Regions from separate parts of the Homo sapiens genome. Here all the other regions are linked to region 2. Evidence: fine-mapped expression QTL. A gene starts in region 2. Each other region holds a variant in brackets. All regions are shown on one strand. Distances are from middle to middle.

Region 1 (7,490 bases), 33 kb before region 2:
GGGTGGGTGGTTTGAGAGGGTGAGGAGGGGTTGCATTAAGGCACATGGCCAAGAGAGTGGTGCATTCTCGGAGTGGGGAGGATTCAATATGGTGGATGAGATGGGGCTGGGAAGGGAGGCAGGGGCCAGGCCTTGGAGGGCCTTGTGGGCCCTGCAAAGGGATTTGGGCTTTGTGCAATGACCTCCCAGAGTGGGTGTCTACAGTAGAGCCTTGACGTGCACTCTGGTCAAATCTGGACTGAAAAGCCAAGTCCCCGCCCTCCCAAAGACGGAGATATGTTAATAGCAGGAAGATCTTTCGGTATATTTACATGCTGGAGAGTAAATATTTTCAAAGATCCCTCACAGCATCTCAGGATATCCTTCTGACCGATGCCAAGTATTCACCTGAGGATATGAGGCATACCATGTCCACCTAGCTCTTCTGGAGCCGAGGAGCAACCGGGCTTCAGCCAAGATCTTTGAGATTGAGCCTGGGGACTTCCTCCCCATTCCCTGTCTCCTTCAGCTTTGCAGTGGCTTGTAGTGTTTCTTTACCATGAGGTGCACATTTCTGAGCCTATATCCCTTGGGTTCTGGATGAGTTTGCTTTGGTAACAAATGACCACAAACTGGGGGATTAAAACAGTGGAAATGGATTATTTCAGTTCTGTAAACCAGAAGTCCGCAATCAAGGTGTCAGCAGGGACTCACGCCTCCAAAGGCTCAAGGGGAGGGTTCTTCCTTGCCTCTTCCAGTTTCTGGTGATCCCGGGTGCTCCTTCATGTGGCAGCATCACTCTGATCTCTGCCTTCATAGGCCATCTTCACTGTGGTTCTCAAATCTCCCTCTCCTTTCTCTTATAAAGACATCAGGGGCAGAGCACGGTGGCTCATGCCTATAATCCCAGCACTTTGGGAGGCCAAGGTGGGAGGATTGCTTGAACTCGGGAGTTTGAGACCAGCCTGGGCAACATGGTGAAACCCCGTCTCTGCTAAAAACAGACAAAATTAGCCAGGCATGGCGTCACACGCCTGTATCCCAGCTACTCAGGAGACTGAGATGGGAGGATAGCTTGAGTCCAGGAGGTTGAGGCTGCACTGAGCTATGATCACACCACTGAACTCCAGCCTGGGTGACAGAGAGAAACCTTGTCTCAAAAAAAAAAGAAAGAAAAGAAAAGAAAAAAGAAGGACACCAGTCATTAGATTTAGGACCCGCCCTAAATCCAGGACGACTGTCAAGACCCTTAACTTAATTAGATCTGCAAAGACCCCTTTCTCAAATGTTTCCAAGTTTCCCATTCATAGGTTCTGGGGTTTAGAACGTGGACATAGCTTGTTTAGGGCCACCATTCAACCCACTATAGTTTCAAAAAGGTGGAAAACATCCTTTGTCTTCAGTTTCTCAGGACTGACTGAAATTGTTTTGAACTCCATATAGTAGACGAAAAGGAACCTGGTTTTATGGGGGACAAGTCTTCCTGCCTTTAGTTAAAGAGGGACAGGACAAAGGCTGAAACCACAGGCAAAGCTATTGTTGGTGTTTTGCAAACTTCAGCCCCCAAGATCACCATCTTTGTGACATTTGCTATTCCTGCTTCCCACTTACATTATTACTTAATATTGTATTTAACTACGCACAAATTATTAACTTAGCCTCAACCGAGAATAATATCCTTCATGTCCCTGGTTTTCAAATGCAAGATACATTTTTCTCCCAGAATACACAAAACAGGGCATGATGGTGTGGTTCAACAACTGGACTAGCTTGGAGGGTGACTTCAAACAGGTTTTGTGAGGTCTTGTAATGACATCGATCCTCCCTGAAGTGGCATCTTCCTCTCTTATCTTGCTGTAAGAAGGGCTCAGCTGTGGTTTAGATGTCTGTTCCCTCCCAAACAACTCATGATGAAGTGTATTCCTATTGTAACAGTATCAAGAGGTGGGACTTTTAAGAGGTGATTAGGGCAAGAGGACTCTGTGGATTAATCCTGTTATCACCAGAGTGGGTTTGTCTTCTCGGGAGTGGGTTCCTTATAAAAGGACGAGTTTGACCCATGTTTACTTCTCTCTCGTTCTCATCCTCTCTTTACTGTTCTACCATGTGGCGCCTTCTGCTGTGCTATCATGCAGCAAGAAGGCCCTTGCCAGATGCTGGCCTTTAGCTCTTGGACCTCCCAGCCTCAGAACTGTGAGCCAATACATTTCTGTTAATTACGTTACCCAGTCTGTGGTGTTCTGTTATAGCAGCACAAAATGGAGTAAGACAGCTTCCTGGGTTGTCAGGAGGGCATTGGAGCCGCAGGGCACAGCCCAGCCCAGGCCAGCACTGCTGGAACATCACTCACTGCAGATGAAGGTGGAGTGACAGGGACTGGCTGCTCTCCTGCTGAGGTAACTGGAGTCTCAAACCTCCTCTCCCATCTTCACAGCCCACACAGCTGTTTTCTCAGAAGCAGAGAATCTTACTCTGCAAGTTCACATTAGAATCCCTGTGTCCCAGGTTTTGCCTAGTGGCTGTGCTGGAGCTTAATCTTTGCTTCTCCAATAGTTAGTTGTGCAGTTGGTGCCTGAGGTCTACTCACGCAGGTCTGTGGGGGAAGTGGGGAAAAGGCCCTCAGGGTACAAATAAAATCATTTAGGAAGTGGGGGTGGAGGAAAGGACTAATCCCTGGAAGTGGCATCCTGCTACATACATGTCAATAGGATAAACTTCAAAATGCTTTTCTCTTAAAACCTCTCTGCGCCAGGAACAGTGGTGCACACCTGTAGTCCTAGCTCCTTGGGAGGCTGAGGTAGAAAGACTGTTTGAGCCCAAGCAGTTCGAGGCCGTGGTGCACTATGCTCATGCCTGTGAATAGCCACTGCACTCCAGTGGGCAACATGGCGAGACCTGTCTCTAAAACAACAACAACAAAAACCTGCCACATACCACTGGTATCCTAACTCGCCATACTTTGGAGAACACTGTGTTAGAGCAAAGATGTGGTCATCAGGAGAATTTACCTTGGTGGAGGGCATGGTGGTGAGTCTTCAAGAACTATGTCTTGTCAGAAGACACAGTCCTCCAAGCCAGAAAGCTAGGCATCACCCTCAGCCCTCTCCTCTTCCTGAATCCCCCAAATGCCTCAGAAATAAATCTTAGTTTGCACATTTAGGTGGATAATAGATTGAACGGCTTTGTTTAGAAGAGCACCTGGATGGAAGTTGGTGCTCAATGGACATCAGCTGTGGGTATGAGAACACGATCTCTGCATCACAATGCTGGCGGGCTTGCCCACTTCCTTCCAGATTCAGTGCCTCTTCAGGGCAAGGATGTGTCCTTTGCATCTCTCTTGTGGGCAGCCTCTGAGATGGTCCCCAGTGATCCCACCTTTGGGTATTCCCACTCTGTGTAATCCCCTCCCCTTGAGTGTGGGCTGGACTTAGTGACTCACTTCTGAAGAACTGAATGTGACAAAAGTGACGGAGTGTCACTTCTCAGATTAGGTTACCTCCCAGTAAACTCTCTCTATTCTTGTATGCTTGCTCTGAGAAAGCTGCTGTCATGTCCTGGCTTTATCAGAGGCCCCCTAGAGAGGCCCACATGGCAGAGAAATGAGAGAAGTCTGTGGTCAGCAGCCAGTGAGGAACTGAGGCCCTTAGACCCATAGCAGGTGAGGAACTGAATCCTGCCACCAACCACAAGAGG[G/T]AGCCTCAATGTGGATCCACTCTTAGTTGAACCTTCAGATGAGACCACAGCTGAACTCCTTGTAGCCTTAGCAGAGGTCTTAAGACAGAGGCACCCAGTTAAACTAAGCCCAGATTTATGACCCACAGGTACTGTAAGATAATAAATGTTTGTTGTCTTAAGCTTCTAAGTTTTGGGGTATTTTGTCATGCAGCAAATAGATAATACAGTTCCTTTCCCCAATGCCCCACACAGGGCTTGGCTTATTTTAGAGTCTTCTAACTATTGGGAAGAGGCCCAGCAGGTTTGAGTTACTCCCTTTTTTCCCTTCCCACATGGTGGCTGGATTTATGTCCACCTTCAGTTTGCTGCTATGTCCATTAGCGTTCTCTGTAAAAATGTAATGGGCTAGAAACATGGATAAAACTTATGGTGGAACTTCAGCCTTTAGTACAGATCACGGCCACACTCCCCTGGGTCTGGACATGACAAATTTCCCACTGGGGAACCAGACAACATGGAGTTCAGATGAGCCTGGCATAGTCTCATTCTATGCATTCTGAGGCTCAGTTGGAGGAGCACCAAGCCCAGGGTCTTGTAGCCCCAGACCCACCCAAGGGATGATTTGCCCTCTGAACTTTTCTCTGAGTCTTTCTAGAACCTTTGGGCTAAAATAAATTTTATTTCCCAAAAGCTTGGCTTGATCTATCTGTTTTCAAATACAGCTCTTGTTAGAGAGTAGCATTTTGGCTGTGTGTGTATGCATGCGTGCATGTGTGCACATGTACTTAATTTCTTTTAACTTTATTTTTAGTAAAAAAGACACAAAAATAACCCATGTTTGTAAAAACAAAATACATGTATATAACATAAAGGGCAAAGTCTCATCAATTCCATTCCCCCAATTCCATGCCCTGGGGTTAATCAAGGTTAACCATGTGGTATGTAACTTTCCACCTATAAACACATACCTTAGAGCTGCCATTTATAAGTTATGTGATGATGAGCAAATTACCAGGAGTGGTGAAGAGCCTGGGGGATAAATTCTTAGACTATAAAGCCAAACTTCTCAGGTTCAAAGCCTGGCTCTATCCCTCACAACTTATGTGACCTTGGGAGAGTTACCTGGCCCCCTTGCCTACTCCCTCCTTAGTTTACCCATCTATGAAGTGGGGCCTCACGTGAGTGGAGGGATATTTACTGAGCTAATGTATCTAAAATGTTTAGGACAGTTGGCTATCACCATCTCGATCCTCTGAGATCTCCCATTTTGCTTGAGCCTGTTTTTTCTTTTTTTGAGATGGGGTCTTGCTCTGACACCCAGTCTGGAGTGCAGTGGTGTACTCATGGGTCACTGCAATTTCAGCTTCCCACATTGAGCTTGGTTCTGAAGTCAGGCTTTCCACAAAATTCTTCCCTGATATCATCCTTCTTCCTGGGTTCTCACTACCCAGGTGTTTAGATATAGGAGATGGTCCCAGTGTTCCTGTCTCTAAGTCCTGGTCCTACTGAAACGTTTCAGTAGCTTGAGCCTTGGAAATGATGGGGAAGCAGGTTTAACTAACTGAGTCTTAGTTAATTAAGGCTTTACTATGTATGGTAGCTTTAGAATAAAGTTGGATTTTAATCATTACCACTCAGCCACTTAAAATCTCCAAATCCTTCCCATGGGAAACCAATTCAAGATCCACTTCAACCAGGCATCTAGTAATCAATAGAGACTGATTGCCTTATTAATTTGTACACTGAACTTTACTTGGCTTTATTTCCGCTGCCTTTAATCACTGATGAAAGAATAGTTTCTTCTTCCATGTTTTATACCCTTTCCATTCATCCCATCAATATTTTCCTGTCAACACAGAAGTCATCACTGAATGCCAGATAGGCCTGACAAGAGTGTGTGCCCATGTGGGGACAGAGATCGGTGCTGTCCCCAAGACTCCGAGGCACCTGACATCACCCAACTCCATAGGTCTCTTTCAATCTAAGGGGCTGATCTTGCCCCCTAAAATTCCAGTTTAGATATTAAAACTTAGCGTTGTCCCTTGTGATTTTAACAGAGGGTTAAAATTCACAAAACTGTCAGAGTGATTCATCAGTCTGTTTATCAGTAACTAGTGTTAGAAAAGCAAATTCCTGCTGACACCTGCTTGGGGCCACTGTACCACACTGCCATGTAAGAAACAGCACAGTCTGGAAGGCCTCCCTGGTTGAAGCTGGGATCCACTGCCTGCTTCCAATATCAGCAGCACCACCGTTTGCCCGGCGCATGCATTGGTTGAGCAGCAGAAGTGGGTTTGAACTGGCAGTCACCTGAGATGCAACAGGCTTTAATCTAAGAGCACATTTACTTAGCATCTAGAAGGCTCAGACAGGAAACACAGCATCATCATCCCGTTGGGAAGACCACCTCCCAGGCACATAGCCATAGCTCCTTTTGCCCTTCCCCATTCAGGGGACACATGGCTGCTGCAGCCGACAGCCAAGATGTGTGTTGTGTGTGGATCACTGATGCACAGACCCATAAGCTTGGTTACCTACTGATATTTCCATCACAGTCACTCACATAGGGCCAAGGTATGGCCACCTACTCCCAGCTCCCTTAGTTTAGATGAGTCTAAAATTAAAAAAATTTTTTTTTTAAAATAATTATTTGTTTTAAATAACATGAGAATGGGTCTCACTATGTTGCCCAGGCTGGTCTCAAACTCCTGGCTCAAGTGATCCTCCTACCTCGGCCTCCCAAAGTGCTGGGATTACAGGTGTGAGCCACTGCACCTGGCCACACATGAGGGTTTCACAGCAAGCAAGGGCAAGGGCACACACTACATCTCACTTTTTTTTTTTTTTTTTTTTTTTTTTGAGACGGAGTCTCCCTCTGTTGCCCAGGCTGGAGTGCAGCGGCATGATCTCGGCTCATTGCAACCTCGACCTGCTCGGTTTAAGCGATTCTTGTGCCTCAGCCTCCTGAGTAGCTGGGATTACAGCTGTGCACCACCACGCCCGGCTAATTTTTGTATTTTTGGTAGAGATGGGGTTTCACCATGTTGGCCAGGCTGGTCTTGAACTCCTGACCGCAAATGATCCTCCCACATTGGCCTCCCAAAGTGCTGGGATAACAGGCTTGAGCCACCGCGCCCGGCCTACATCTCACTTTTATCTGGACTCTATACTGAAGAGCATGAACTCTGAGGCTGTGTCCCTGGCAGCATTTCTCCCCCAACTGGCAGCCCGTGGAAGTGGAGTGGAGCTGGGATCAGCAGGATAAAGCATGACTTTTCTTTTTTGCTTGTTTTATTTTAAGTTCTGGGATACATGTGCAGAATGTGCAGGTTTGTTACATAGGTATATGTGTGCCATGGTGGTTTGCTGCACCTATCAACCCGTCATCTAGGTTTTAAGCCCTGCATGCATTAGGTATTTGTCCTAACGCTCTCCCTCCTCGTCCCCCATCCCCCAAAAGGCCCCGGTGTGTGATGTTCTCCTCCCTATGTCCTTGTGTTCTCATTGTTCAACTCCCACTTATGAGTAAGAACAAAAGCATGACTTTTCTCTCTCTCTGAGGGTTGCCCAGGTCCTCCAAAATCATGCTCGTGTACAACACGGAACCTGAAATTGAAGTCAGGCTTTTTCCATTTGACTTTTCAGATTTGCTTTTTGTCCAGCTATTGCTTCAGGATAGGGTGGCAAACAGGATCCCTTTTATTTATAGAGAGAGGGAGAGATTGCTCCCAGTGATGTCTCTAGCAGGTGATGATGTGAGACAATCCAACCTTACAAATCACACAGGCTGCAAGGTGCAAGTTGAAAATTCCGCCAAGCCAAAAACTCTACCTTAG
Region 2 (7,490 bases):
CATACAAAAATTGCAGAGTACAAGGTTTTTAAAAAATCATAAAGAAAAAAAGGGCACTTAAAAAGTGGTCTGAGGATAACAGTTACGTAATCCAGTCTTCCCAATATTTTCCCCAAAAAGATGAGTATGAGAAAGCAGAAAACAAAATAGGATCCGCAGGGCACCTGGGCCCAGGACCTTACCTGGCTGCCCCACGCTGTTCAGCCGTACCATGAGATGTCTATGGTTCGGGGTATAGAGGTGGACATCTGACAGCACAGTGTCGCTCCTAAAGGTGACCTCGTCCATGGCTGCCGCAGGAGCCAGCTGTACCATGGCCCAGGCTCCACCTTAGTCCTAGGACAGGAGTCCCTCAGAGGTGAGAATGGGTCCTCAGCATGGCAGGTCCCAGAGGAGATACTGCAGACAGGTCCAAGCTGGTAGCGAGTAGCTTTGCATCGCCCTGGGAGAAGATCTCAGAGACTTGGCCAGGGAAGAGAATCCAGCTGGAAATTAATGCGTTATTTTGTTTATATTCATTTCACTCATTATATTCATTTTATATTCATTCATATATTCATTATATTCATTTTCATAGTAACCTTTTATTTATAGAAAGGGATATGAATTTCCATTTATAAAGTTTCCTTTCCCTTTTTTTTCAACTTATTACAAAAAAATTTCAAACAGTAAGGATACAGGGGAATATCATAACCGTAGAACTACTGCTTAGATTCAATGATCCTCACCATTTTGCCACACGTGCCTGCCCTCTCTGGTTTCTTCTCCTTGAGCTGAGAGTACATTGTAGACATCATGACATTTTGCCCCTAAATTATTTAATGTCTGTCCCCTAAGAGCATTTCCCTATATAATCATAAGACCATTAGCAAATCTAAGTTAATTAATAATTCCCTAATAGCATTAAAGTCAATTTCCTCCATCTGTCTCCCAAAGGTCTTTGAGGTTTTTTTTCCCCCAGAAACCAGTATCCAATCACAATCTGCACTTTGCATTTAGTTGTTATGGCCCTTTACTCTTTCTTTTTTATTCTAGAAGCTGTTATCAACTGTCCCCACATCATTTGTTGTTATAAAGCTTTCCTATTTTAAACAATGTTTTATTTTTAAACATTTCTTTTTACAGACAGGGGCTTGCTCTGTTGCCCAGGCTGGAGTGCAGTGGTACAATCATGGCTCACTGCAGCCTCAAACTTCACGCGATCCTCCTGCCTCAACCTCCTTCATAGTTAGGACTACAGCTATGCCACCATACTTGGCATTAAATTTTTTTTTTTTGTAGAGACAAGGGTCTCACTATGTTTCCCAGGCTGGTCTCAAATTCTTGGGCTCAAGCCATCCTCCCATATCAGCTTCCTAAAGTGCTGGGATTACAGGCGTGAGCCATCATGCCTGGCTTAAAGCTCTGCTACTGAATTTAAAAAGATGAGTGGAATTAGGCGGGTGTCGTGGCGCGCGCTGGTAGTCCCAGCTACTTGGGAGGCTGAGGTGGGAGGATCGCTTGACACCAAAAGGCAGGGGTTGCAGTGAGCTGAGAATGCGTCACTGCACTCTGCACTCCAGGCTGGGTGGCAGAGCAAGACCCTGTCTCAAAAAGAAATTAAAAAAAAAAAAAAAAGAGTGAGTGGATTTAAAGGAAAAGTAGTAAGGGAGTCACTACACTGGTGATACACAGATATGGCAAAATTATGCAGGTGACACATTAATAACTAAAACTTGGAAAACCATGGCTGAGGCAAAGTGGTCAAGAACAGGTGGGACCTCCCTCCAACCGTTTCACCTAATCAAAAAGCATCATCAAACAGCAGTAGTCTGATGGGCTTTGAAGCTGGACAGACCAGGTGGGGATCCCTGGTTTCTCACCTTCTAGCCATGTGATTTCAGGAAAATCACTTCGCCTCTCTGCATCTGTTTCTTCAGCCACAATCTCACGCAGTGTTACTGGGTGGGTAAACTGCTGAGCAGAGTCCTTGGCTCACAGTAGGTGTTAATAAAACACCAGCAACCTCCTTGTCCTGGGGTTGGTTTCAGGTATTTGACCCAAACCTGCCTGTAACCCCTGACTGCCTATAGGAGCTGTTCCTACCTGGGTAGATGTCATGAAATCTTCAGGGCCCCCACTTCTTCAACTGCAAAATGAGGTCATCATGACTCAGGCTGTCCTAATGATCCCAGTACACTGCTGGAGTTCCTACATTTAAGTGGTTGCTGTGGGGCAGCAAAAGCTGTCCCAACAAAAAAATTTTTAAGAAAAAGATGATTCCTTATTCATCTCCATGCTAGCTTTCCTACTCAACACCATAAAGCCATCAAAATGCAAGTGGGTTGTAAAGAAAGTCTGTGAATCTGGCAAATCAATGCAGAATTTCATGGTGTCATTGAAAGTGATGGAGAAATGCTGGACCTGAAGGCCAACACTCAATCAATCGGACTGGCAAAACCACACCAGATTCCAGAAGAGAAAATACAGCTTATACCTACCACTCATTTCAAAGGCAGATCAAGCTCTCTCAGGACTTAGAGATGTCCTGGGGGAAAACTGAGGACTTTCACATACAGTTTTTTTTGAAGGGGGTGGGGAAGATCCTCTCTAATATTGCTGTAAAAATCAAAAGTGAACCAAAGGATGCCATTTCTTTTTTTGCCATAGCGCATTTTTTTTTTTTTTTCTGAGACAGAGTCTCACTCTGTTGCCCAGGCTAGAGTGCAGTGGTGCCATCTCGGCTCACTACAACCTCCGCCTCCTGGGCTCAAGTGATCCTACCTCAGAGTCCCGAGTAACTGGGACTACAGGCATGCACCACAATGTCCACCTAATTTTTGTATTTTTAGTAAAGATGGGGTTTTGCCATGTTGGCCAGGCTAGTCTTGAACTCCTGACCAAGGTAGATCCATCTACCTTGGCCTCCCAAAGTGCTGGGATTATAGGTGTGAGCCACCAGGCATGGCCTATAGCGCAATTTTGTTGGAAAACTTACATCCCAGAAAAATCAATGTTCTTTGCTTTTTCCAAAAGTGAGCATAATATTACACACCAAATTTTAAGTATAGACACACACAAAAAAACTCAAATTCTTAATCTCTAGTTGAATTTTCCATTTTTAAATTCAACCCAACCAGGCTTCCCAAGAAATGTACGCTGCAATGTAAGTTCCAGATGAAGGAGATTCCCTTTAAGTGGCTTTCCCTAGAATCAGCTATCTGGGAATAAGGAGGCCCTCTTGAACCTATCTCAGGCCCTCATATACTCAGAGGAGTATATGAGACAATTACCACTTTTCGGGCTTACGACATATAGTAAACGTTCAATAAGCAACAATAGTAAATACTATCATTATAGTAATATAATAATGATTAAAGTGAATGCTGGGAAGAAAGAAAAAAGGTAACAGTTTCTCTAGTCAGGAAAAGTCTCTTTCCGGAAATGCAGGGTCTGTATGGGCTTCGGGCTCCTCTCTTTACTGGGCAGAGCTGAGAAAGGAGACCCAGGTTGCAGATGGGGACCTGCCCCACCACCTCTCCATAGGGCTGCAGGCTCATCCCTGCAGCAGGAGCTAACGTGTTCTTGGCTCTTCTAAGGCTGTGGGGGCTAGACTGAGACGCTACCAGCTTTCTTCTCCTATAGGTCCCCAGTCAGTTGTCCCAAATAAGCAGTGTGCTGGGATCACGGTGTTGAAATAACTTCCCTCCTCATCTTTCTTTCTGATAACTGCAACTCACTCAACAATCAATAATTTGGCGCGATCCCATGACGATTTAGGCCAGGAGCTGGGGAGGGCAGGGTGTGAAGGCCCAGGCTGGGGGCAGGAAAGACGTGGCCTGGCCACGGTGCGTAGAGTGGTAGTGAGGGGCTCCGGGGACGTCCCCCGTGGGGCTACTCGTTCTCTTTGTCTTGTCGCCTTCCTGACGCCACCCTTGTGGGTTAACTATTGCCCTCTCAAAAAACAGTCACAGGTCGGGCACTGCCCTCCCTTCCTAATCTAGAACCGAAGGAGAGGTGCCTGGACCCAGGATGGAAACCCAGGTGAGGACGTGGACTTCTTTCCCCAACACCCGTGTTGAGAAGGGGAAACTGACGCTAAGAGTGGGGTCGGGCCTTAGGGATCTGGGCCTCCGATCTGTGGGAGCTCGGATTTCAAAGTCAGGCTCGGCGCCAGGAGGTTCCCTGCACCCTACCCTATCCCGCCGCCTCTCCCAGGCACTTACCCGCCGCGGGGCCCAGCCTGGGATCCCACCCGACTCCCGTCTCTGTGGGACTTAGGCGGCCGCCATAACAGGCGGTCTGCGCAGGCGCGGCCCCGCCCCCGCGTGCGACCATCCGACTGCCCCGCACCGTGGCTCCACCTACCTGCCCGGGCCGCGCATGCGTCCGAGGGTTGCCGGCGGGCACCTGTAGCCTTCGCTCTGGTCGCGGGCGAGGCGTGTTTGCTGGGGGGACCCGCCTAGGTGGCTAAACTCATTCCTCTAAAAGACTTAAATAGGAGTTAAATAACTCTCCCAGCTACTAAGTGGTAAAGCCTGGATTCGAACCCGGGGTGTGGGATCAGAGCCGGTGCTATTTAACCAGCATGCTACTGTATTTATTATCACGGGTGTTACCGTCATCCATGCTCTTAGTACTCGTTTGTTTGTTTGTTTGTTTATTTGAGATGGTCTTGCTCTGTCACCCAGGCTGGAGTGCAGCGGCGCAATTTTAGCTCACTGCAGCCTTGAACTCCTGGGCTTAAGGAATCCTGTTTCAGCCTCTCTAGTAGCTGGGACTACAGTTGCGTGGCACCATTTTTTTTTTTTTTTGTACAGACTGTATCTTGTTGTGTTGCCCAGGCTGGTCTCAAACTCCTGGCTTCAAGCAGTCCTCCTGCTTCGGCCTCCTAAAGCTCATAAATTACAGGCATGAGCCACCACGCCCAGCCAGTACTTGTTATTATTAATAGGTGGTAGTGATTTCATTAGGTGGTAGTGATTTCGTTAATTCGTATGCTCATCAAGTTTCCAACACCAAGGGGGTGAGACAGAGTGGCAAACATAAGACTCCATGTTTGCTCGTTTTTTCTTGCCTGCAGAATTTCAGAAAGCCTCTGAGTCCGTGACTGAGCACAGCCCTCAGAAGAATCCCCTGAAGAGGATGAGCAGGATAGACCACAGATTCTCACGTCTCTTGCCTGAGTCACTGCATTTTTAGAAAAAGTACAGTCAATAATATTGGCCCTTTTCTCAATCTATATATTCAGTGACATCATGGAAGTCAGCCTGGCCACAATGGAGTAAGCCAGGGGATGGGCCGCAGGAAACGAGGATACATAGGTAGCCAGGGTTAGAACTTTTGTGACATTCTAAGAACTTTGGATTTTACTGTGCGTGAGATGGGGAGCTGCCAGGGATATACACCACACTGACGTGTTCACAGACATGCCCAGACACACACAGTGGTGCTCACTCTCAGACATGTCAGTGAACATACAAATATACACACAGGAACATATGTAAAGTCCACATATGTAAAATCTATATCCCTGTGTGTTCACATATACACACACGCACACACATGGCCTCAGCTGGCAACCTTTGTCTAAATTACTTTTTTTTCTCTTTTCAAAATAGAATTAAATCAACATCAATTTCATGGTTACTGATGATAAAACGTGGAGAGTTGATAGGGTGACTAAGCGACACAAATAAGAATTTTTTTTTTTTTTTTTTTTAAGAAACAGATTATGTTTCCTGAAATCCCCCAGGACAGTACACAGAGAGCCAGTTGGGTGTCTTGGGACCAGATTCTATTCATAGTTTTCTCTCTAGTTCGCTGAGGGTTCTCTTAGTTATCCCCAGAGGATGTTGAGTGGTGGGGAGGGCACTAGGAAGGCATTGTTCACACCCTTGGGAGTTTTGTCTTCAAATTTAAACCGGGGGAATGACCCTTAAAAATCAAAAGATCACATTCCTCCTCTTGTCAAACCTATAATCTTTTATAGGGGATTAGTGCCCCTACAAAAGAGGCCCCAAAGAGCTGCCTCACTTCTTCTGTCATGTGAGGACACGGCAAAAAGACAGCCATCTATGACCAAGAATTGGACACAGAATCTGCCAGTGCCTTGATTTTGGACTTTCCAGCCCCTAGAACCATGAGAAATGAATGTGTTTATCAGCCACCCCATGTATGGTATTCTGTTATAGCAGCCCAGATGGCCCCAAAAGGGTTATCATTTCTGCCACAAATTTTGAGGTGGTTTGCAACACAGTAATAGGTCACCAGGTAAGGGGAAAGAAAGCCAGCCCTTCTTGGCAGGGCTGCAAAGAGATGGTAGCTGGGGGAGTGCGGGAGGGGGCCCTCAGTTCCGGAGCCTCAGTTATAAACAAGGCACACTGCTGGCCCCTTCATCTTGTGGTTTTGTTTCATTCTCACACCCATTCCGAAGCTCAGAGAGGTGAAGTGCCTTGCTCAGTGTTACCTAGCCAGTGAGACGCAGACTCACGTTTTCTTTTCTTTTCTTTTTTCTTTTTGACAGAGTCTCCATTTGTCGACCAGGCTGGAGTGCAGTGACGCCATCTCAGCTCACTGCAACCTCTGCCTCCCTGGATCAAGCAATTCTCCTGCCTCAGTCTCCTGAGTAGCTGGGATTACAGGCGTGTGCCACCACATCCAGCTAATTTTTGTATTTTTAGTAGAGACGGGGTTTCACCATGTTGGCCAGGCTGGTCTCAAACTCCTGACCTCACGTGATCTGCCCGCCTTGGCCTCCCAAAGTGCTGGGATTACAGGCATGAGCCACCACACTTGGCCTCAGACTCACATTTTCAAAATGTCCCAGTGAGTCTGCTGGGTGGAGCCTTAGGGTTAAATGCCCTCCCTAGTGTCCCAGGCAGGTCTTTTGCTTTGAGAGTCTCCCCCAGACTTGGCGAAGCAAGGGTTAAGGTGCATGCTCACACACGCTGGAGTGTCCATCACTCCCACCACCTGGACTAATGACAAACCATGTCTGCAGCAGAGGGAAGGCGGATGAACTGCCAGATGTGTATTAAGAAACCAGCTTGCAGGAAATTGCTGTCGGGTGATTATTATTAGCTGGGTTATTCAGAACAGCCCTTTCTCCAAAGGTCGTGCATTTACCAAATGCTTGATGTGTTTTCCCAGTCAGCCCCAGAAAATTTTGTCCTCCTGGAGAGAGAGCTTGTCCTCCAGGACTGCTGAAAGTGGGTGATGATAATTCTGCCCCCGCCTCCCATCAGCATATCACGGCAGCTGCTTTGAATGCACAGCAGTCTGCGCTCTGGTTCCTGGTTCTGTGTGCAGAGGCAGGAGGTTGACCTTCAAGAGCACAGAGCTGAGTTCAAATCCCCAGCTCGGCCACTGATTAATTATATTCATCCATTCACTACCTAATTTTGAAGAGCTTTTCATATCCTTGGTACTTGGGCAATTGCTTTACTTCTATGAAACTTAATTTCCTAGTGGCTCAAATACTGATAATACCTTTCTTGGCGTGTTGTGAG
Region 3 (7,490 bases), 43 kb before region 2:
CCAGGCTGGTCTCGAAATCCTGGTCTCAAGTGATCTTCCCACCTTGGCCTCCCAAAGTGCTGGGAATGCAGGTATGATCTACTGTGCCCAGCCTAAGAAGCTAATTTCTGATAATAAGTGCTTTAGGGAAATGCAAAATAAGATGATGTTCCTGGGATCAGGGTGGGTACACCAGCCATGATGCTCAGGGAGTTGTCCACAAGGCTGTGACATTTAATCTGAGGCCTGAATGCTAAGAGGAAGGCTTCTATGGGATTATCTTGTGCTTGTTCTCATGCATTTTGGCCCTCGTGCTAGGCTCCTAGAAGACCCAAGGGCTGCCTCCAGCTTTCCTCCTCTGAACATCTCAGGTAATATGGGGAAAGCATGAGAAAGTGAGCCAGGCCCAACAGGCAGCTGCTGCATCTGACACGTCACACACATGTCAGGGCTTTGTTCTGCTGCCATTGTGATGACTGGGACCGCCAGCATTGCCAGCCCAAAGGATGCACGGCAGTGCAGTCCCCCTTCTGGCTCAAGATGTAGTGAAATGACAGGGGAGCTGGGTCATACTGCCACCCCCATGCTCTGCAGGACTTCCTAAAGGCAGAAAGTGAACAACAGACAATTCTCATGCTCAACATGTCAGTGGTGCCGAGCTTGAGAAACCCTGCCTGAGTTAATGTGTATGTAGTTCCAAGAATATAGAAGGAGCTTAGTACATCCTGGGTCCCTTCCTCCTGTGGCTAGAGATACCCTGCCTATTTACCCCAATTCTTCTTGACAATACATGGCTGTGGTATCTCCAGGGATCAGTTGGAGTGTAGCTCCCTCATCGAGACTGATGGAAAAAATAGCTAAACATGTACTTCTTTTCTGAGTTCTTTGATGACTTGACTTCTGACAGTGCTTGGCATGCAGTAGGAGTTCTAGGAATACGTATCAATTTCACTGCATGAAAAGGACAGCAGGATGCTGAGGAAGGACATCTTGGAGAGCTCTTGGGGAGCTCTTGGGGAGCTCTTGGCCCTGAGGCGCTGTCCAGGAACTCTGTGCTGAAACTTTACAGAGGAGGAGAAAACCCCAAAAATGTGGCACATATACACCATGGAATACTATGCAGCCATAAAAAAGAATGAGATCATGTCCTTTTCAGGGACATGGATGAAGCTAGAAGCCATCATTCCCAGCAAACTAACACAGGAACACAAAGCCAAACACCACGTGTTCTCACTCATAAGTGGGAGTTGAGCTGTGAGAACACATGGACACAGGGAGGGGAACATCACACACAGGGGCTTGTCAGGGGATTGGGGGGCAAGGGGAGGGAGATCATTAGGACAAATACCTAATGCACGCGGGGCTTAAGACTTAGATGACGAGTTGATAGGTGCAGCAAACCACTATGGCACATGTATACCTATGTAACAAACCTGCACATTCTGCACATGTATCCCAGAACTTAAAATAAAATAACAAAATAATAAAGAAAATAAAAATTTAAAATAAATAAATAAAACAACTTTATTAATTTTATTAACATAAAAATTTTGTTAAAAGAAAACCTGAACTGAGATTGAACTCTTCCCCACTGAGAAAGCAAGCCCAGGCATCCTTTCTCCCTCTCGTCCTCATCTCTCCTCCCTACAGACAATGGAAGATGAAAATCAGGAGACAGAGCCGGGCGCGGTGGCTCAGGCCTGTAATCCCAGCACTTTTGGGGGCTGAGGTGGGTAGATCAACTGAGGTCAGGAGTTCGAGACCAGCCTGGCTAACATAGTGAAACCCTGTCTCTACTAAAAATACAAAAAACAAAAAAATTAGCTGGGCATGGTGGCAGGTGCCTGTAATCCTAGCTACTAGGGAGGCTGAGGCAGGAGAATCATTTGAATACGAGAGGCGGAGGTTGCAGTGAGCCGAGATGGTACCATTGCACTACAGCCTGGGCAACAAGAACAAAACTCCATCTCAAAGAAAAAAAAAAAAAAAGAAAGAAAGAAAGAAAGAAAAGAAAATCAGGAGACAGCATGGCAGAATGGTTATATCCTCAAACTCTGGAGTTAAAGAGAGTTGGGCTCATATTCTGGCTGTGACGATAAAGAATTACATGACTTTACATAGATGACTTCACTTCTGAGCCTCAGTCCCATCTGTAAAATGGGATGATGATCATAATGTCTGCATCTCAGAGATTTCATGAGTGTTAAGTGGGAGAAGTGCCTTAGAGCACGTAGCAGGCAGTGGCTGGCATGTAGTAAGCACTCAGCAAATATTAGCTATGACCATAAATGTTTTCATAATCATCACTCTTGTAGTTTGGGTTCTCCTAGAAATAGATTCTGAGACAAAGATTTGAGTGCTTTATTTGGGAGGTGATCTCAGGATGATTCCAGGAGATATTGGTGGGTCGATAATAAGGTGTGGGTTATCTAGCAAATAATCACTGTGGGTGACTGCAGCTCCGTTCCATTGGGGAACACTGGGAGCCGGCACAGAACAGTCACTTTAGGATTATCCCACCGTGGAGCAAGGAAGCTGGGGTATTTATACACCAACTACTCCCCGTCATTGGCCAAGAACTGCTTGCTCAGGATGTCAACTCCCCAGCACTTCTGGCCACCTGTCCCTTTCAGGTTGAGCAGACTCTCAGGCAACCAAAGAACACCCTCAGGGTGAGTCTCAGATGATAGAGGCAGGTGAACTTGCAAAGAAATGGAAAATGCTGCACAGATATTGGCTTTTCCTCCTGCACCATCACCTGTGGCCACAGCTAAGGTTCTAAATGCCTCTCTGCTGGGCTATCATAGTCTGTGCTCACTTCTGTAATAGCATTTGTCAACTTCATTAATTCATTCAGTCATTAATTCTGTAGCTCATTCGCACCCTCAGGTATTCATCCATTTACTCACTTATACTTCCACACTTAACTGCTGACTAAATGCTACATGCAGGCCTCAGGCTCCTAAATGGTCTATTCCAGGGGTGTCTCCGCCTGGCCAGGAAGCTCCTTGGGGAGAAGCCCTGGGCCCGATTGGTCTTCTGGTGCCAGGTATTCAGCACAGCGTCTGGCACACAGCAGGGCTCAGGATGTGTTTAATGGAGCTGAAGCAAATTAGAGCCCAGAGTAGGGTTTTTCTCTTCTACAAACTGAGCGTGCTGTGAAGATCCAGGCTTTCTTCAAGCTGGGTACTTGTTAACCAGATGTTTCAAATACCTGTCCTACGAGAAAAGTCTTTGTGAAATGAATCTTGGGAATCCTGGAAGTTTTCAGACACGAAGTGTATGCAAACGCTCAGTCTCCTGCTGAATTCAGAGGCAGCAGAGGGAGGGGCTTTGCCTGGAAGGTGCCAGGCTGTATGCTGGGTCCCAGAGGCAGCTCCTGACTTGGAGTCACCAGGGTTCAAGGTCAGACCCACCGTTCCTTCTCAGGCATTTGTCTCTCTCAGCCTCAGCTATTTTTGTTTTATTTTGTTTTGAGAGAGCGTCTCACTCTCATCACCCAGGCTGCAGTGCGGTCTTGGCTCACTGCAGCCTCGATCTCCTTAACTCAAGTGATTCTCCCACTTCAGACTCTTGAGCAGCTAGGTCTACAGATGTGCACCACTATGCCTGTTTATTATTATTACTTTTTTTGTATTTTTAGTAGATACGGGGTTTCACCATGTTGCCCAGGCTGGTCTCAAACTCCTTAGAGGATACCGTGGAAACTCCTGCCCTAGAGTCAGGCCCATCAGGGCTCCCACCC[A/G]GCTTTCTCGCTCACAGACTGTGGGATCCCTAGTGAGTCCCTCCTCCCCAGGGACCCTCAGTTTCTGTGCCTTTAAAGCAGGGTGATACAGTGAGACGTGCCAGACAACCAAGCAGGTGAGATGATTTTCATTCTGATTTCCTGAGCACCTGGCTCAGGTGCGGGCTGCTCTAGGGCCCTGGATAAGGATCTTTGCATGAAAGACCTCAATGTCACATGAACACACATGGATCACTTGAGATGGGTCCTGGGAAAGAGCTTTAGAGTGGGCTAGACGTGGTGGCTCATGCCTGTCATCCCAGCACTTTGGAAGGCTGAGGTGGGAAGATCACTTGAGCCCAGGAGTTTGATACCAGCCCAGGCAACATAAGGAGACCCCATCTTTACAAAAATACAAAAAATAAATAAATTAGCCTGGTGTGGTGGTATGTGCCTAGGTCCTAGCTACTCAGGAGGCCAAGGTGGGAGCACTGCTTGAGCCTGAGAGGCTGAGGCTGTAGTGAGCCGTGATAGCATCACTGCACTCCAGGCTGGGTGGCAGAGCAAGACCCCATCTCAAAAAAAAAATACATAAATAAAATGTAGGCTGGGCGTGGTGGCTCACACTGTAATCCCAACACTTTGGGAGGCTGGGGCAGGTGGATCACCTGAGGTCAGGAGTTCGAGACCAGCCTGGCCAACATGGTGAAACCCTGTCTCTACTAAAAATACAAAAATTAGCTGGGCATGGTGTCACAGGTGAACAGACAGGTGAACTTGCAAAGAAATAGAAAATGCTTGCAAAGAAATAGAAAATGTCTGTGGTTCCACTTACTTGGGAGCCTGAGGCAGGAGAATCGCTTGAGTCCAGGAGCCGGAGGATGCAGTGAGCCGACATCACGCCATTGCACTTCAGCCTGGGAAACAGAGCGAGACTCCATCTAAAAAAAAAAAAAAAATTAAAAAACTTAGAATGCACAAGTGTAAGGAAAGAGGAAAGATCATTGCCTAGCCCAGTGGTTATTAACTGGGGCCATCTAGCCACAGCTGGAGACAGTTTTGGTTGTCATGACTGTGGTCGGGGGTGGGAGACAGGGAGGTGCTCCTGGCATCCGGTGGGTAGAGGCCGAGGGGACTGCTGAATGCTCTACAATGCATAGGACAGTCTCCTATGACATGGGATTACTGAGCCCAACACGTTGGCAGTGCTGAGACTGAGAAACCTCACTCTAGTGTAACTCCTCTAGTCTGACAAATGAAACCCAGAAAGGTCTAAGATGATCCAAGATGTGATCAGCAGACTGACCTTGGGCAAGCTTTAATTTCTCCAAGCCTCAGTTGCTTCATCTGTAAAATGGATGTAAGAATAATAGTACTTACCCCACAGGGCTGTGAAGAGGTTTAAAAGGGATACAGAGTCAGGGCTGGGAAAACACAGGCAGAAAAATAGGAGGAGTGGGAGGACCTCCCCCAGCCTCCAGGTGGGGCCCCCACCTGGGTGGGGCCCCCTCTTGATTTTAGCTCTGAACTCTTCCCCAGGTGACCCTCCCACTGGAACATCCAGGTATGTGTTGTCATAGAAACCTTTCAGGGACGGTGCACTCGAGAGCTTGACTGATTTTTTTTCTCCCCAAAATAACCCACCCTGTCAGTCAAGTAACACTTAGGCGAAGTGGTTAGGCAAGTGAGACTGTTTTACCATCATTAACTGTTGAGCAGGACGCCTACTTGGGGAATTTCCATTCTCCCAAGACACACAGTTAATAGAAATGCAACAGAGATTAATAATAATAGGGAGATGATGATGATGATGGCTTGGCTACCTTTTTTTTTTTTTTTTTTTGAGACGGAGTTTTGCTCTTGTCACCCAGGCTGGAGTGCAGTGGTGCAATCTTGGCTCACTGTAACCTCTGCCTCCCGGGTTCAAGTGATTCTCCTACCTCAGCCTCCCAAGTAGCTGATTATAGGCGCCTGCCATCATGCCCGGCTAATTTTTGTATTTTTAGTAGAGACGGGGTTTCACCATGTTGGCCAGGCTGGTCTCGAACTCCTGACCTCAGGTGATCCACCCGCTTCAGCCTCCCAAAGTGCTGGGGTTACAGGTGTGAGCCACCACGCCTGGTGATGGCTACCATTGCTTGAGCTTTTCTTCCTTGCCCTGTTATATGTTAGGTGCTTGACAGACATTACCAAGTCCAACTTTGAGAAGTAAGTACTAGTAGTGTGCGCATTTTACAGACCAGGATTCTGAGGCTCAGAGAGGTGAGTGTTCGGGCTGGTTTGAGTTCAGATGCCAGGTGCCATGTTCTAACCATCAAGCTTTATTGCCTCTGAGGAACCTCCAGTGGAAAGGGGTGCTGGGGGAAGGCTCTGTTCCTTTTGTCCCTGTCTCCAGGACCCAAACCATCAGCTTCATGCTCTTTCTTGGTGAGCTCTGAAGCTGGAAACTCCACCACCAGTCCATGCATCCCACTGTGAAGGTTGTCACCTTCCTGGTCTAGAAGAAACGCTCCAAAGAAACACCCCCAAGAAACGCTCCCACATGGCTCTAACAGCAGTTGTTTCCTGAAGCCTGAGGCAGGCAGAATAAGACTGTCATCATGTCCCAGCCCTGGCATGTCAAACCCTTCAATCCATCCAAAGACAATGGCACAGCATAAGCTCCAATCCACAAGGCTCCTGGATTCCTTCAGACAAACAATATTCACCCTGGGCAGGGGTCATGGAAAGAGCTCTGGGTTTCCAATGGAAAGACAGAACCGGTGTTAGATCCCACCTCTTGTTACTTCTTTGCTATTTTTATTTTTAGAGACAGAGTCTCGCTCTATTGCCCAGGCGGGAGTGCAGTGGTGCAGTCACAGTTCACTGTAACCTCAAACTCCTGGGCTCAAACAATTCTCTTGCCTTGGCCTCCTGAGTAGCTGGGACTACGGACACGTGCCACTGCACCCAGCTGATTGTTTTTCTTTTGGTAGAGACAGTCTTGGTATGTTGTCCAGGCTGGTCTTGAACTCCTGGACTCAAGTGATCTTCCCACCTCTGTCTCTCAAAGTATTGGGATTATAGGCGTGAGCCACCATGCCAAGCCCATTCTTGCTACTTCTGAGTCCTGTGACCTCAGACAGCCTCTGTAAAGATTCGAGCCTTAGCTTACGTGTCCCTAAAATGGGTACAGGAGGCTGGGCACAGTGGCTCATGCCTGTAATTCCAGCATTTTGAGAGGCCAAAGTGGGAGGATTGCTTGAGGCCGGGAGTTCGAAATCATCCTGGTCAATATAGTGAGACCCTGTCTCTACAAAAATATAATAATAATAGTGATAAAATAAAATAGAATAAAATAATATGAGTACAAAGTTGTTGGGCAGATAAATGAGATCAATTTTAAGTTCTTTTTTTTTTTTTTTTGAGACGGAGTCTCGCTGTGTCGCCCAGGCTGGAGTGCAGTGGCTCAATCTCGGCTCACTGCAAGCTCAGCCTCCTGGGTTCACGCCATTCTCCTCCTCAGCCTCCGCAGTAGCTGGGACTACAGGCGCCCGCCACCACGCCCGGCTAATATTTTGTGTTTTTAGTAGAGACGGGGTTTCACCATTTTAGCCAGGATGGTCTCGATCTCCTGACCTCGTGATCTGCCCGCCTTGGCCTCCCAAAGTGCTGGGATTACAGGTGTGAGCCACCGCGCCCGGCCAACGGTAAGTTCTTAATAAAGGCGGGTTTTATCTGAATTCGGGTTTGGGGCTAGCTGGGTACTGGCGGCTCTCAGAACTCACGTGCTGCTGTACAATGTATA
Region 4 (7,490 bases), 21 kb before region 2:
CATGACCCCAAAGAGTGGCTCTTAGGTTTATTCCAAACGTACCTGATTTGGGTGATAAAGAGTTAAAATTAAATACAAAGGCCAATGCCAGTCCATTCCTGGCGCCAGCTCCTGCCTCTTCCTTCTCATGGGGCCCTCACCAGAGTGATGGGGTGGAGCATACCCAACCCTGGGAGGAAATGAGGCTTTTGTGCCGAGCGGCAATATGATGGCAATACTGGCAGTGGTAGTCAACCCATCTGTAAACAGCTGACAGAGGGCAGTACAAGAATCCACCTCACAGCCAGGGCCGCAACCGCAAGTAAAGCACACAGCTGAAATGACTGACGTGGGTGGAACTGAGCTGAGAAGGAACGTGGCTCGGCTTGACCCTGGAGCACACATCACAACCATGAGAAACAGGCAACTAAAGTGACCTCCAGCCCACAGCAACAACCTTCTCTGGCTACAACTGGGAGGCAGGGACAGACCCCAGAAAACCATCTTGGGTCATCTAAGGTACGTGTAACCATATTTTTAAAATGACAAAATCTCAAGCATGTTGCTTTGGTGAGCTTCTGATTTTACTAGAAATACACTCTAAGAACAGTCGAGACGCCGCGCCTTGTGGAGGCGATGGGTCATGTTACTGGTTCTGCGATGATCTTCCAGAGCTCCTGCAGCAAACAGAGAAAAGAACAGGTTTCTGAAGTGCACATACAAGAGCATCACAATTTCATTAAGGAAAGTGATTCACCAAGGAGAGTAGTTAGACAACACGTCAGCCACGGAGCAGGCGAGCTGGGGCAGGAGCGGACGGGCGGCTTCCTCCTTTCTTTGTTGCTCTGGGCTGTTCTATTTTACTGTGGCAGAGAGGCTGGATGGATGAAGTCCCAGCATTAACGGAAGGTGCATCAGAGGATGTCAAACAATCAGAAGAGACCAGAATAGCAGTGAGTTGCCGTATCTCTCCATTTTGGGGGAGATCTTTATAAACAATTTTATTTTAGAGACAGGATCTCATTCTGTTGCCCAGTCTGGAGTGCAGTGGCACCATCACAGCTTGCTGCAGCCTTGAACTTCTGGGCTCAAGCAATCCTCCCACCTCAGCTTCCAGAGTAGCTGGGACCACAGGTGTGCACCACCATGCATGGCTAATTTTTTTTCTTGATTTTTGTCGAGATAGGGTCTGTGATGCCCAGGCTGGTCTCGAACTCCTAGCTTCAAGCAACCCTCCGACCATGGCCTCCCAGAGTGCTGGGATTACAGGTGGGAGCCACCGTACCTGGCCTTTTTGGGACGTCTTAGGCATCATGTATTGGGGCTGCTGACTTGTAAGAAATGTGTGTTCTTGGTCATGTGACGCTACTCTTAATGCTGCCCAGAAGTGGCAGAGCAATAAATACAAGATCCTCCTCGCACACAAAACCACACGAATTCCATGCTGCCCTCCCTCAGGACGCGAGACAGAGTGCAAGGGCGGCAGCTCCTCGTGACTCCCTCTTCCTCCCTTTTTCCTTAGAACTAGGCCCGGGTCTCCACAGACATAGAGAAAGGGAGGCCACAGCCAAAAGGCAAACAGAACAAAAGAAGTTAATTCTCAATCTTTGGACTCCAGTTAATAGAAAAGCCAGTTCAGTCCGAGAGGGGCTGGTATCCTTCCACAGTGAAGATGTGAGCAGCGGCCACCACAGCGGGGCGCCTGCACCAAGATCTGCAACCCACAAACTTCCCTCCACTGACTTCCTGTTCCCCAAACAACCTCTGCCTCGGTCTTGCCTCCTCTGGAGTCTGAACTGTCCAACGGGGGGAATATGTGCTATAAAGTAAAAGACAAGGTTCGCCTGTAGGCCCGTCTCCAGACATGGTGGCTGCTAAGAACAGGATGTAGCTCCCCCAACAGGTTCCACTACAGATGGTGCCAGGCACGCAGGCTTCACCCCCTGCAGGACTAGGGTGGAGCCTGTGCTTGGAGGGCTTGCTTCATCACCTCTTTGCCCTGGAGTCACCCGCTTCACAGTAAAGCAACCAACGGCCCTGCTTCGGGGCCTGGACCTACCAGTTGCTGGAGGCGCTCGTAAACCAGGAGCTGTGGGAAGGAGGCCTCCACGGGCTCCACCACGAAGCGCAGCTTGCCATCTGCGAGCTGCTCCAGCGCGTGCAGGCAGGAGCGGAAGTGATCGTAGGCTTCACATGTGACGTCCAAGTGTCTCAATGTGAAGTTGAGCCTGCAAACCAGCCAGTCGGACGCACAAACTGCCATCATCAATGGGAAGGGTTTTGCTGTTTCTGCCCACCTTGCTTTCCTATCCCTCACTGATCTCATATCCCCTGGACGGGCTTTTACTGAGCGCCTGTCTCATGCTGAGTGTGTGAGTGCAATTCCTTCCTACATCTGCACGACAGCCCAGGAGGTGGAAGTGGATAGCACTTTACAGATGTGGAAACAGGCTCAGAAAGCTCAGGTCACGTGCCCACAATGACACTGCTGGAAAGATCAAGACAGTCCTGCAGATCAACACTTGAGGACGCCCTCCAGGTCCTGCCTGCACCCAGCACAGAATCTGGTGCCTGGAGCTGCGCATAACTATCTGAGAAATGAATGAATGAGAGGCAGTGGCAGGGGGCGGTGCAGAGGACTCCGGGAGCACAGAGAACAGAGAGAAAACTGCTGGGAAGCTGGGGTCTGAGAGATTTCAGAGAGTGAGCACCTTCAGAAACAGGTCTCCCAACCCTGCCACTTGCCTTTCAAAACCTTAGTCTACAAGATGGTTTCACTTGAAATTAAAGCTCTTTGCCTTTTTCCCTTTTCTTTCCAAATTTTTTTATCAAGAAAAATTCCAGACATGCAACAGGAGTAAGAACAGTCTATGCTGGGCGTGGTGGCTCCCACCTGTAATCTCAGTACTGTGGGAGGCCGAGGAGGGCAGATCACCTGAGGTCAGGAGTTTGAGACCAGCCTGGACGACATGGTGAAACCCCGTTTCTACTAAAAATACAAAAATTAGCCAGGTGTGGTGACGCATGCCTGTAATCCCAGCTACTTGGGAGGCTGAGACAGGAGAATGGTGTGAACCCGGGAGGTGG[C/A]GCTTGTGCTGAGCCGAGATCGCACCATCACACTCCAGCCTGGGCTGACAGGGCAAGACTCTGCCTCAAAAAAACAAAAAAAACAAAACTGTCTAATGAACCCATTACCAGCTTCAGCCACTGTCCACTTCCAGCCACTCTGCCACCTTGGCTCTTCCCGGGGCCCCCTGCCCTCACTGAGTTATTAAAAAGCAAATGCCAGACACCAACCCATTTCCTCTGTGAAGCTGGAAATGTCAGTGTGTGTCTCAAGAAGATGAAGACCTCTTCAACTAAAGTTTAACAATCACCCTTTAACATCAAATATTCAGTATTCAACTTTTCCCAACTGTCCTGATGTTTTTCCTTTACAGTTTATGAAATCAGGATCCAAATGAGGTCTGTACATTGCTATTGCTCAGTGTGTGCCTCAAAGCAAGCCCTCGGTATTATTGGTATAAGTAACACTGCAATAAATATGCAAGTACATACAGCTTTGTACACAACCCTGAGTGTGAATTTCCAGATGCTGAATTGCTGGGTGAAGAAGTCTGTTTCGTTTTACAGCTTTTGCTGTGGATTCCGAACGATCTTCAGAAAAGCTGTGGACTACTGTTAAGTATTACAGGAGAATGTGTGTAGCTATCACAAGGTGGGCACTCAATAAATGGAACCTAACATTTCAGGATATTCTAGTGGAAATGTCTGGGTGAGGCTGTTGGGTGAGGAGCTGTCCGATTCAGCAAGAGAAAGAGACCTGGGGGAGCTGAAGAGACAGACGGCACCACAGAGAGAACATTCAGGAAGAGAAGCTCTCAACAGTGTGTGCTGGCCAAGCGTTGAGGTTCCAGTACAGTCTGCATTCAAGTCCTTGTCTATCACTAACTAGCCGTGCCCTGGCCAAGGCCCCTGATGCTTCCCAGCCTTCCTCTCTTCATCAGTCAAGTGGGACAGCAGCGCCTGCACACAGGGCTAGGATGCAGATTCAGTGCAGTAACGTACACAAAGGATGAGCACAGACCTGGCACATAGTAGGTGCTCAATAAGTGGCACTGAGTAACAATCATAATGACACTGACAAGGACACAATTAGGAGGTGAGAGTTCCGCTGACACTCGGGACGTCAGCACGGTTCCCGTGGCGCAAAGCTCACCTCTTCTCCACCGACAGTATGGCTGTGCAGGCATTTTTCAATCTGTGGGCGAGTCGGGAGAGCGTTTTAAACACAGCATCAGTCAAGTCGTCGTCGTAAAACACTGTGGGAAGCAAAAAGGCCAGCATTAGAGGAAAACACGCAAATATTACAGAAATCGACTTTTCAGAGCAATCCGCACAGAGAGAATGCTTATCACCACGGAACAGCAGCAGCTTCCAGAATTAAAACTGCAGATGTGGTGGCATGTACCAGAAAGTCACTTCTAAAACTGAACTCCCGGGGGAAGTGAGGAGAGACTGCACTTGACTTCATGCTACAACAAAGGACGTGTACGGCGAAGGAGAAATTTTCTTACCTTCGGCTGCAAACAGGATGGTGGTGTGATCGTACAAGTCAGAAATTTCCTCTTGTGACCAACTGAAGGGGACCTTGGGATCTAAGAAAGAACAAAAGCACACTTTGTGCCCATTGCCTTCTCTCCTGGCCACCAACTCTCACTGGGACTGACCAAAAGGCACTTCAAGAGAAGAAACAGGGCTGGGGGTAGCTCGGTGCAGTGGGCACCACCAGGCAGACCAGACTCCCTGCTTCAGGCCCACTGCTGCCCGGGTGCAGAGTCATGGTGGAAGAGGTGCCTTTTCTGCTGAGTGTCTGCTCTAGCCAGTGAGCAGCGGGCGGATTTCAGCCTCACCCGCTGCCTTGGCCTGTGGCCCAGTGCAGGACATGATCTCCCCCTTCTGCCTGCTGGGTGGCCCAGGAAAACAGCCTCAGTTTTGCACTCACAGAAAGGGCACAGTACTACTTCCTCACAGGACTATTGGGAGGGCCGAAGGGCCTACGGTGCGCAAAGTGCTAGGCAGGTGACCAGTACTCAAGGAACGACTTTTCCCATCTGCCATCTGACAGGGAAAAAAAAAAAGACATCTTTATACAAAGAAAGAGCAAGCACCCAGGTCTGAAGTAGTCTGTGTAAGAAATATGGAAACTGTCCTACCCGGGGGGTTTCCTGGCACCACTGTTTGTTGGGAAATGGTCTGTGCCCCAGAGTCTGACAAACTCGGGTCTATGCCCCTACCCTGCTGTGTACCAGCTGTGCCCATGGGCAGTCTGCACTCACAATTCAGGGATTATCATGCTACCACACAGGGAAACCACAACACCTGGAGAAGAAAATGAACGTGAGGTGCCCAGCATGCAGCAGGCGCTCAGAGAATGACAGCTGGTGCTCATCGGCCAATGGAGAGAAGCTGCCATGCGCCGATGGGACTGTGGCAGCAGCTGGGACTACAGCTCTGTCAAAACCACAGAGCCAGGGGCACTGAGGTATTACAAAGGAATCACTGAATCATACTGGGGGACGTCCGAGAGAAACACACACCTGTGCAGAGGTCGTCCTTCAGCCAGTCCAGTTCTTTGACCCTAACTATACCACCTGTAAAAACAAACAAAAAGAGAACTTTCCAAACTCTAAACATCATCAGGAAAAAAAGATAAACTTTTACACTATATATGAAGATCCATCTATCCACCCACCCACCCTTGCTCTCACCCATCCACCTTCCTGCCCTTCCATCTTTACAGCCAGCCAGCCAGCCAGCCAGCCAGCCATCCACCCACCCATCCATCCATCCATCCATCCATCCATCCATCCATCCATCCATCCATCCATTCACCCACCCACCCACCTGCCCATCTTCCGGCCCTTCCTTCTATCCATCCATCCATCCATCCATCTACCCACCCACCCACCCACCTATCTTCCTTCCCTCCCTGCCTCCCTCCCATCCATCTTCTCATCCTTCCTTCTAGCCATCCATCGATCCATCCATCCATCCACCCACCCCCCCACCCATCTTCCTGCCCTTCCATCTATCCATCCATCCATCCACCCACCCATCTTCCTTCCCTCCCTCCCTCCCATCCACCCATCTTTCCATCCATCCATCCATCCATCCTCTCATCTACCCATCTATCCATCCTTCTGCCCTCCCACCCATCCACCCACCCATCCTTATTATCCTCCTTCCCTCCTCATCCATCATCCATTTTCTGTCCCTTCCCTCCATCCATCCGTCCATTCTTCCAGCATTTTTTGAGTGCTACGTGTCAGGGACGGTGCCAGACATAGGGAAAATAAAGATTTAAGAGTCATGCTCCCCATCCTTGCAGACCAGCTCCCCTAGGAGAGACTGGCAGGTTAACCAACAACGGCAAGACTGTGTGGCTGGGTGATGCCAGAAGGATGAGGCAAACGCACAGGAGGAGAGAGAGGAACTCATGTCAGACAGCGGATGTCAGGGAAGGCTTCCACCAGCATGCTCCCTCCATCCTCCCAGCTCTGCTGACTGCCTACTGTACCCTGAGCACTCAACAAACATTGTGACAGTGCAGAGCAAATGCAGACAGGGTACCTGCACCCACAGAGCTTGTAGTCCGGTGGGAATGGAAAACACCAATAACTAGTCACACGAGCAGATGGTAAAATGCAATCATGCAACGTGTGCCTGGAGTCTGTTGGGGGCTCTGGCCTCAAATCTGGAGGTCTGAAGCCCCGAGGGTGATGAGGACTTGCCGGGAGGAGGGACGGCAGAGCACTCAGGCAGAGGGAAGAGCAAGGGCAAAGGACTCGAGGGAATGTGATTTGAAAGACGGTGAGGTCGGCTGTTGGTGGTGGGGGGCGCTGCAGACAGACAGGGGCCAGATCCCCAAGAACATGAGACAAGCAACAGTAAACCACTGAAGGGCCTGAAGCCTGGGGGGCTGCTCGGAGGAGGCGTTAGGACATAACTGTCGTCACCCATCACATACACTCATCCCTGCAGGCCGTGCAGGGAGCAGAGAACCAGGCAGATGGAGGCGGAGGCCCATCTGCGCAGGGGGACTGGCCTGTGAGTGAGTCCTGGCCGTGCTGGATGCAGGGCTGGAAAGGAGACTGTCAGGAGGAGGCAAGGAGAGCAGGCCGGGGCTGGGCCAGGGAGGCCTGGGAATTCAAGGAGCTCAGACTTCACCCCACAGGTGATGACGCCCCTGGGAGGTTTTCAGCAGCAAGTGAAGTGGACTGGCTTGCATCTGAGAAAGGGCACTCTGGATGTTTCATGAGGACATCTTGGACGGGTCAACTAAGGAGCTGGGGAGACCAGCTCAGGGGCCGCCGCCAGTGTCCGGGAGAGAAAGAGCTGGAGTAGGATGACGCAGTGGATCTGGGAATGAGGAGGTGACCCAAGGAGCGTCCTCAATGCTCTGAAGCTCTGTGATGCCCAGACGACGCCTGCTCCCCTTACTCACCTGC

The links. PIP is the estimated chance that this variant, and not a neighbour inherited with it, causes the effect.
Region 1: its variant is fine-mapped to the expression of METTL22 in platelets (CEDAR, PIP 0.95).
Region 3: its variant is fine-mapped to the expression of METTL22 in cerebral cortex (GTEx, PIP 0.96).
Region 4: its variant is fine-mapped to the expression of METTL22 in thyroid (GTEx, PIP above 0.99). The same link has a PIP of 0.9 or more in esophagus muscle, gastroesophageal junction, tibial artery and visceral fat.

What each region holds. Positions count from the first base shown.
Region 1 is chr16:8,651,482-8,658,971 of GRCh38, reverse strand. It overlaps a transcript of METTL22 not described here. Among named protein-coding and RNA genes, the nearest start is that of ABAT, 19 kb to the left of the region's middle. The variant G/T (reference allele first, on the strand shown) is at 3,673.
Region 2 is chr16:8,618,491-8,625,980 of GRCh38, reverse strand. It overlaps METTL22 (methyltransferase 22, Kin17 lysine), which reads right to left and starts at 4,283. Exons shown (of 11, transcript NM_024109.4): 1 at 4,206-4,283; 2 at 183-485. The coding sequence starts at 315.
Region 3 is chr16:8,661,263-8,668,752 of GRCh38, reverse strand. It overlaps a transcript of METTL22 not described here. Among named protein-coding and RNA genes, the nearest start is that of ABAT, 9.6 kb to the left of the region's middle. The variant A/G (reference allele first, on the strand shown) is at 3,725.
Region 4 is chr16:8,639,274-8,646,763 of GRCh38, reverse strand. It overlaps METTL22 (methyltransferase 22, Kin17 lysine), which reads right to left. Exons shown (of 11, transcript NM_024109.4): 7 at 5,580-5,633; 8 at 4,557-4,637; 9 at 4,199-4,301; 10 at 2,039-2,207; 11 at 1-656. The coding sequence ends at 621. Among named protein-coding and RNA genes, the nearest start is that of METTL22, 21 kb to the right of the region's middle. RefSeq lists an enhancer at 7,101-7,490. The variant C/A (reference allele first, on the strand shown) is at 3,067.